Regions from separate parts of the Homo sapiens genome. Here region 2 is linked to region 1. The links come from fine-mapping of genetic effects on gene expression. A gene starts in region 1. The other region holds a variant in brackets. All regions are shown on one strand. Distances are between the middles of the regions. Region 1 holds the start of CDKN3 (cyclin dependent kinase inhibitor 3). Region 2 overlaps LOC105370504 (a long non-coding RNA gene).

What was found. PIP is the estimated chance that this variant, and not a neighbour inherited with it, causes the effect.
Region 2: its variant is the best candidate, but not a certain one, in a credible set for the expression of CDKN3 in T cells (GENCORD, PIP 0.50).

What each region holds. Positions count from the first base shown.
Region 1 is chr14:54,394,872-54,399,271 of GRCh38, forward strand. CDKN3 (cyclin dependent kinase inhibitor 3) reads left to right here and starts at 2,136. Exons shown (of 8, transcript NM_005192.4): 1 at 2,136-2,206. The coding sequence starts at 2,198.
Region 2 is chr14:53,563,830-53,568,229 of GRCh38, forward strand. All of the region lies in intron 2 of LOC105370504 (a long non-coding RNA gene), which reads left to right. Among named protein-coding and RNA genes, the nearest start is that of LINC02331, 280 kb to the right of the region's middle. The variant C/T (reference allele first, on the strand shown) is at 1,905.

The DNA.
Region 1 (4,400 bases):
AGCGAGTGAGGGCTGCTAGCACGTTGTCACCTGTCGATAGGTGCACCTAAATACGGGTTCATTATTTGACCAAAGGCGGGATTCTACGTCTAGACATGCATACCCACCTACATTCTCTTGTACACAGTACCATGGCCGTTTCTAATATGAAATGGAAACCTACATATCAAAACAATAGCTATAAATACGTGGTGGGTGTGGTCTGTTCCTTAACCCTACTAAGGCCTTCATCTGAGGAAGCAGATCTATATTAAAAGAGAGCAGTATTTCCCAAGTAGCCCTTGAGTTCACACAAAAATTTTGTTTTCTAATTTGGCCTTTGATTTGATTTTGTTTTCTAATTTGGCCTGAGATAATCAGCCAATATGGTCACCATATTGAACAGCACAGATCTAAAAGGATTTCCCGAGTATGGAAAATCTCTGTGGGTGTCTAGGATGGTTAATTTTGTGCATCAGCTTGACTGGGCCATGGTGCCCAGTTATTTGGACAAACATTATTCTGGATGTTTCTGTGAAAGTGTTTTTGGATGAGATTTGCATTAAATTGGGAAACGTTGAGTAAAGCAGACTGCCATCCATAATATGGATGGGCCTCATCCAATCAGTTGACGAGCTGAATACAACAAAAGGCTGACCCTGCCCTGTGCAAGGGGTAATTCTGCCAGTAGACAGCCTTCAGACTTTACATGCAATATTGGCTCTTCTTTGTTCTACAACAGCTTTTGGACTCGAAGTACAGCCTTTCCTGAGTCTCCAGCGCACTGGCCTCCCCCCATCAGATTTTGGACTCTCCAAGCTTCCACAAGCACAGGAGCCAATTCCTTAAAATAAATCTGTTTCTATATCCATATATACACATCCTATTCATTCTTTATCTCTGGGCAACCATGACTAGCTAATACAGTCTCTAAATCAAACTGTGGTACCTTCTTTACTAAGGAATTCCTTCTAATAGCTCTATACCCATTGGCTTTCACAACATGAATCAGGGGTTGAAATTTCTGCATATTTTTCTCAGATCTGCTCCAGGCGACTTCCTTTCCCATGGCTAGTTAAATGGGGACTGGAGAAGGCGGAGAAATACTCACATTTTTAAAAGATTACAGCTAATTATGTAGACACACTGGCCCTTAGACCTATCTTACCTGGCATTTTATAATTTCCCTTTCACACAATATAATTTAATTCATATTTGGGGGACAGGAATATTGATCTACACTGTAACTTGTCTAGTTTCTGGAACGATAAACTAAAACTTCAAGCATATAAAATATGTTTATACTCTAAATTTTTAGTTTTTTCCCTAGTATTTGTATGTCTAGATATAATTACAAAGTCTATGTGATGTTTTTCATGTGACGATCCAATACAGTGCTTCCCTGAGCCCTTAAAAAATAAAAAATAAAAATACAACTTAAAGAAACAAAAACTCCCTACCGTAGCCGCTACAAGGGAGGCTAAGGCGGGAGGATTGCTTGAGGACAGGAGTTCGAGGCCAGCCTGGGCAACATAGTAAGACTTCCGTCACAAACACAAAAACTCCCAACCCGGGTTCGAGACCAGCCTGACCAACATGGAGAAACCCCGTCTCTACAAAAAATACAAAAATTAGTCAGGCTTGGTGGCACATCCTTGTAATCCCAGCTACTCGGGAGGGTGAGGCGGAGACTCGCTTGAATCCGGGAGGCGGAGGTGGCGGTGAGCCGAGATCGCGCCATTGCACTCCAGCCTGGGCAACAAGAGCGAACTCCGTCTCAAGAAAAAAAAAAAAATCACCTCCCAACCGTATGGACCACGCTGACATCCTGCCATCAAGAAGCAAAGCTTTCCAGCGTCCCCCAAGCGCTAGGGCCGCCTTCTGACTCTTCCGCCCCGCCTCCGCCCCCTGCACTCTCCCAACTGGCGGGAGGAGGGCGCCCTCCCAGCCAATCAACGTCCCACAGGGCCCGCCTCCCGCGCGTCTTTCAAAGGTCTTCTAGGAACCAGTCAGCGATTAGAGGCCGAGTCTTCGGCCACCCAAAGGCGGAGTAAGAAACCAGAAGCGGATCTGATTGGTTGCTGGAAGACGCCGCGCCCACCTCACAGAAGGACGAACCAGTGAGCTAAGCTGCGGGGCGCGGGCTCGGCCGGGGCACCGGTGAGTCGCCGGCGCTGCAGAGGGAGGCGGCACTGGTCTCGACGTGGGGCGGCCAGCGATGAAGCCGGTGAGTCGGACGTGCTGGGGTTTGGAGGAGCGAGGCGGCAGGGACGCAAGCGGTCCCGGGGACCCGATCCTGGGCCGGAGGGCAGCCCTAGCCTGGTAGCAGTGCGACTGGCGCCGTAACCGTTCTGCGGGTCGGGGAGGTGACTCGCACGGGCCCAGCACGGGCACGAGAGACGAAGGAGCAGGGTCGGTGGCCGACGAAGGAAAGACGGACATTCGCTGTGCACCTGCTGTGGGCTGTCACCTGTCCCCTGCGGGGTCTCATAAGCCTCCCAGCCGCCCAGCCAAAGAGGGCCGAGCCTCGTTGTACCGAGGAAACCGAGCCGAAGAGCTTGAGTGTCAGCGATGAGTGGGCGCGATACCCCAGCCCCGAAGGGTGGCCGGGCGCTACCTGCGCCCACAGGGCCTGGGGAAACCTTGAGTACGAATGCCACGCCGCGGCTTGTGGGCGACACCACCGCTGTCACCATGCCCCAGGGCCACCTGGCAATGCTGCTCTTTTCCCGTGACGTTCAGAATCACAGGGCCTGGGGAAGCAGAAACGTCCAGCTCTGTTAGGATTAATAAACCTGGTGAATGGGCCACACAAATTTGAAATATGAATCATCAAAGTTGCTTTAAAGAAAAAACAGATGCAGGCAAGGAGCTGAAGATCCCCCACCTAACCCATATTTCCTACTGCCCGGCTTGACAACCTACTGGAAGCCTTTCCTTTGGGTGCAGTTGATTATAATACTTCAGATAGAGCCAAAGCAACAGAAATCCATAGCCTAGGGCCGGGTGGTGTCTCGCGCCTGTAATCCCAACACTTTGGGAGGCCAAGGCGGGCGGATCACTTGAGGCCAGGAGTTGGAGACAAGCCTAGCCAACACGGTGAAACCCCGTCTCTACTAAAAATACAAACATTAGCTGAGCGTGGTAGTGCACGCCTGTAGTCCCAGCTACTCGGGAGGCTGAGCCACGCAAATAGCTTGAACCCAAGAGGCAGAGGTTGCAGTGAGCGGATATCACGCCACTGCCCTCCAGCCTGGGCGACAGAGCAAAACCCTATCTCAAGATAAAAGAAAGAAAGAAAAAAAAGTCCGTAGCCTAAATTAGCCGTCCTGTGATCTTCTAGTACCAAGACCGTTGTAGAATATAGCTTCAGAGCTAGAAAGAGCATTAGGTGCTTACAATTGCTAATCCCTATGTTGCCATGTGGAGGGACATCAGCTGTCCTTCACTCCTGGCCTCTTTCTCCACCTGTCCCCATTGAGTTATCTGATCCCCGAGTTTGGAAGGAACTGAACACCAGTATCTCAACTTTTTCTTTCCTTCTTTCTTGGGATCTACCTGCCTGCCTGCAGAAGGTGCTTTCTGGTCCACTCTCTGGCACACAGGAGCCCCAGACTGTCCATGGCCACCTGTGACTGGGTGGATACATTTGTCTAATTCTGGGGTGAACAAGGGGCAAGCCCACGTGGCAACAGCTTTAAGCTGCATACTCCATTTGATATACAATAATAAAACTCCATTTCTTTATCTTTCAATTGGTTTCAACTAGGGAGTGAGAAAAGGGTATGGGTTTTGTTCTGTTTTGTTTTTGTTTTTCTTTTTCTTTTGATTCCTTAAAATTTCAACAAGGAGTGTAGAAGTCTTCCATGTCAAAATGCTGCAGGATTAAGTTCCAACTGCTTAGATCAGCATACGAAGTCTATCTCAATCTCTCTAGTCTAGTGATTCATAAAGTTGGAGGCAGGTTATTTCACCTACACCACCCCCACCAAACTACTAGGCCATGTGGGGATGTTTTTTGAGAAAAGGGGTGGGCAAAACTACTTCATCTCCTCTACTCCATCTCTATTTTGATATCACAGTTCCTCAATACACAAGCCCTTGGCTTAACTTCTTTCCTTTCTTTTTTCTTCTTCCTTTTTTTTTTTTTTTTTTGGCAGAGTCATGCCCTGTCAGCCAGGCTGGAGTGCAGTGGTGTGTTCCTGGCTCACTGCAACCTCTGCCTCCTGGGTTCCAGGGATTCTCCTGCCTCAGCCTCCCGAGTAGCTGGGATTACAGGCATGTGCCACCATGCCTGGTTAATTTTTGTATTTTTGGTAGAGCCAGGTTTTGCCATGTTAGCCAGGCTGGTCTCAAACTCCTGACCTCAGGTGACCTGCCCAACTTCGCCTCCCAGAGTGCTGAGATTTACAGGCATAAGC
Region 2 (4,400 bases), 830 kb before region 1:
CATGTATTGCTCATGGGAATGCAAAATGGTACAGCCCTTCTGGCAGTTTCTGAGTTAAAAGTTAAACATAGACCTTGCATATGATCCAGCAATCCCATTTCTAACTATTTAGCCCAAAGAAATGAAAACCTATTTTTGAAAAGAAACCTCTACATATACACTCAAAATAGCCTTATTCAAAATCACCAAAAACTGGAACCAACCCCAAAATATGTCAATGGATGAGTAATCCATGCAATAGAATACTACTCAGTCATAATAAGTTACAAACTATTAATACATACATCATGAATGAATCTCAAATATATGACGGTAATTGAAAGAAACCAGTCTCAAAATGTTGAATACTGTATGATTCTGTTTATATGATACTCTGACATAAGCAAAACTGTAGGTTTAGAGAATAGATCAGTGGTTGCTAGGGTTGGTGGGTATAGAGCTCTGACTTCTGATGGTCAGTACAAGAACATGCTTTGGGATGTTGAAGTTAAGCTAAATCCACTTGTGGTGGTGATTACAAATATCTGTGTGTGTGCTGAAACCCATATAACTGTAAACAAGACAAAATGTTACTCTGTGTAACAAAAATATAAATTTAAAATGGCAATGACCATTTTATTGCTTACAATTTTTTGAGTCAGGAATTTGGCAGGGTTCAGCCAGGTTCAGCTGACCATATGGTGTCAATTCAGCTGGGACTGAAGAATCCAAGATGGCCTCACTAGTGTGTCTGGGTCTTGATGCTGGCTATTAGCCAAAGGACCTTAGTTCTCCTCCATGTGGCATCTCTTTCTACCTGGTTTACTATCCTAGGATTTCTCTCTGCATATGTCCTCTCTCTTCAGCAAGACAGCTTAAACTTCTTACATAGCAGTTGGGTTATGAGAGCAAAAGTGGAAGCTATAAGGCCACTTAAAGACCTGGTTTTAGAAATTCTAGAATGTTACTTCCATTGCATTATGTTAGTCTTGTCCAGATTAAGGAGAAGAGAAATAGTTTCTACCATTTGCTGGGAGGTGCAGCAAAATATCATTACATAGGAGTATGGACACAAAGAGACATGATTCATTGGCAGGGGGAGGTGGGAGGAGGAGCATAGGGAACACATTGTCAGTTCTCACACTGCTATAATGAACTACCTGAGACTGGGTAATTTATGAAGAAAGGAGGTTTAATTGACTCACAGTTCTGCAGGCTGTACAGGAAGCATGGCTGGGAGGCCCTTCATGGTGAAAGGGCGAAGGGGAAGCAAGCACTTTCTTCACATGGCAGAGTGGGAGAGAGAGAGTGAGTGAAGGGGGAAGCACTACACACTTGCAAACAACCAGATCTCCTGGGAACTCTATTATGAGAACAGCAAGGGGGATGTCTGCCCCATCATGATTCAATCATCTCCCACCAGGCCCCTCCTTCAACACATGGGGATTACAATTTGACATAAGATTTGAGTGGGGACACAGAGCCAAACCATATCAATGAATATTCTAAACAGCAGGAACAGCATGTGCAAAGACTCCTAAAGAGCTGAAATAAGAGGAGGTGAAAAGAAAGCATGGTGGCTGATGATGAATGAAAAGAAGTTTCAATAGAGATGAGGCTAGGGAAGAACCTAGAGCAAGATTATGTGGGACATGTAGGCTAATGTTACGGGTTTGATTTTATTCTAAGTGAAAGCCGTTAAAATAATTCAAGCAGGAAAGATCTGATATGATCTGTCTTTTCAAATGGTGGTGCTGGCTCCTGTGTAAATTCCTATATTCATTAATTAGTTACCTGAAGAGAAACACTCTATTCGAAGGTACCCAAATGTAGAATGCATAAAAACACATCCCATTGCAGTTTAAGGTGAAATAATTCACATCACATGTTTTCACACACATTTCATTCAACACATATTTGAGAGA[C/T]TAACATGTGTCAACCACTTTGGTTTAAAAGGCAAATGAATATCATAAATGCTAGCTGTAGTCTTTTTGAAGTCCAGTGAAACCAAAAACAAAGTTTGAATGTCTTGGGAGGGATGAGATATTTTTTCCCACCCACAAGTCAAGTTTTTAAATCATTTACAACAAATACTCTTGTTTGCTTTTAAGACTGGAACTAAAAGAGCAAGTCTACCACCTGGCAAGATAGTGACAATCCATGAAGAGTATGTTGTGTAGGGCTGCACCTTTATTTTTAAGCGCACAGATTGGGGAGAGATGGAAGAAGGATGACAGAAGAAATGCAGACATATTGAGTTCTCAGCAGAGCAGTGCTATATGACCAGCCATATGTCATCTGTGTAGGTGCAAAAGTATAACTAAATATATGAAAGGAAAATATGGAATCATGCTTCACAGTGTGTTAGACAAAACACTTTAAGAAATCAAAATCGGCATGATTCACTGAGCATTTATTATGTGCCGAACATTATTGTAAACTCTGGGGCATAGAAAAGAAATATTAATATAATGTGATATAGAAACAATGTTAGGAAGTAGAGAGTCAGGAGATGGGATTCTGGTCCCATCTCTGCCATTAACTTGGTGTGGAAAGTAGAGCTAGTTATTTGTCCTCTATGGATCTCTGTTTTCTGATTATGCATATTGCTTCCAGCTATGACATTCCATAAGCTCTACTTCCTACCATTGAGTTTACAACCCAGAATTGCTGGAGAACATGACTTAGACAAATGAGGAATCAGATTTCAGTTTGATTCTACCAATGTTTATTGAAAATATTTTCATCTGAAAGTCAAAGTTATGTGGAACTTTGCAGTAAGTGGGTGGATCAAAATACTCAGGCTCACTTTCTATCTTTTTATTGACTGAACTAAGATGATTGTGTTTTTCATTGCAAATTTAAATTTTGAATTCCACTTTTTTAAAAAAAAATCATATTATGTATAATCTTTTTTTTTGGTGACAGGCTAGAGAAAAGGATGCTTGGGTGGCAATTGAAATAGAAATCCACTTTCAAATACTATTACCACGTATTTAGGGGGGAATAAACTTCGAAGAAACACTTTGCTTGTTTAGAACATCATTGTTTGCTAAAAGGTTAATGAAACTCAACTAGAAGTTGAATAAAGAAGAAAATCAATCAATGTCTCCCTTCCCCCATCACCATTATCAGCACCTTCAGGATGAAAAATATAGAAGTCCTGTTATTTTGTGCCTGTTGATTCACATTTTCCCAGGACTCTGGTAGACACAACAGGATTTGAGATGAAGGATATTTCAAATCTATTCCAAAGGTTTTTTCAATGATTGGGGGGTTTCCTGGTTATCTTATTTATATACATACCTGTTTTTACTGTAGCTACTGTGTGCCTGGTGCTAGCTTTATGTTTGTAAATGTCATTTTCACACCTATGAATAAAGGCATGGAGATAGAATTTACCTAACAACAAATATTTGATTATATTAACTATGTTCCTTAACTAGTGTGAGGAACTGGTGAAGTGTAGTGAATATGACAGACATGGTTCTTGACCTTAAGCTTAAGGAGGGGAGATGAAGAGCAAGTGATTATGAGTACGATGAGTGTATCAAAAGGCAGAAGCAGAGAGCTAAGGCCTGTTTAGCAAAGGAGCTGACCTGGTACTGTTTATGGTCTGAGGACAATAAGAACAGTCATATTCAAGTAGAGACCTGTTGTATAGTAAGGAATTTGGTTAAACTTTGGTCCCTGGGAGGTAACCTCTAAGTCTAAAGTATTTTCTGAGTGAGGGGAATGTCTTTGTTATTCATGGATGCCCTCTCCTTGACCATGACTGAGTTTATGCTAATGAGATGACTTAGAATGGGGACTGGCTACTCTGGAAGGACCAATCGTGTGATTAGAGCATTGCGGTTTGATCTGTGTGATGTCAGGCTAACCTGTGGGGAGGGGAGGAGCCTTAGAGATGGAGTTCAATCATGTACTAATATCAATCATGTCTATATAATGAAACCCCAATAAGAACTATGGACACCTGGAGCTCAGTTGAACTTCCCGGTTAGTGATGCACATTGATATGCTGGGAGGGTGATGTGTCCTGAAGATGTGGAAGCTCTGTATCTGGGACCCTCCCACACCTCACCCCATGTGTCTTTTCATTGTTGGTCCCAATTTGTATCTTTTATATAAAACTGTAGTTATAAATATGGTGCTATTCTGAGTTTTGTGAGTTGTTAAAATGAATTACAGTACCAAGGGAGTAGTGAGAACCCCAGAATTTGTAGCCAGTTAGAAATGCAGGTGGCCTGGGAACCCCAGAGCTTATGGCTGGTGTCTGAGAAGAGGAGAATCTTATGGAGGACTCTGCTTTTAACCTGTGAAATTTGACCTAACTTTGGGTAGGTAGGTGTTGGAATTGACCTAACTCTGGGTAGATAGGTGTTGGAACTGAATTTCCTATTATTCAGTTGGATTGCAGG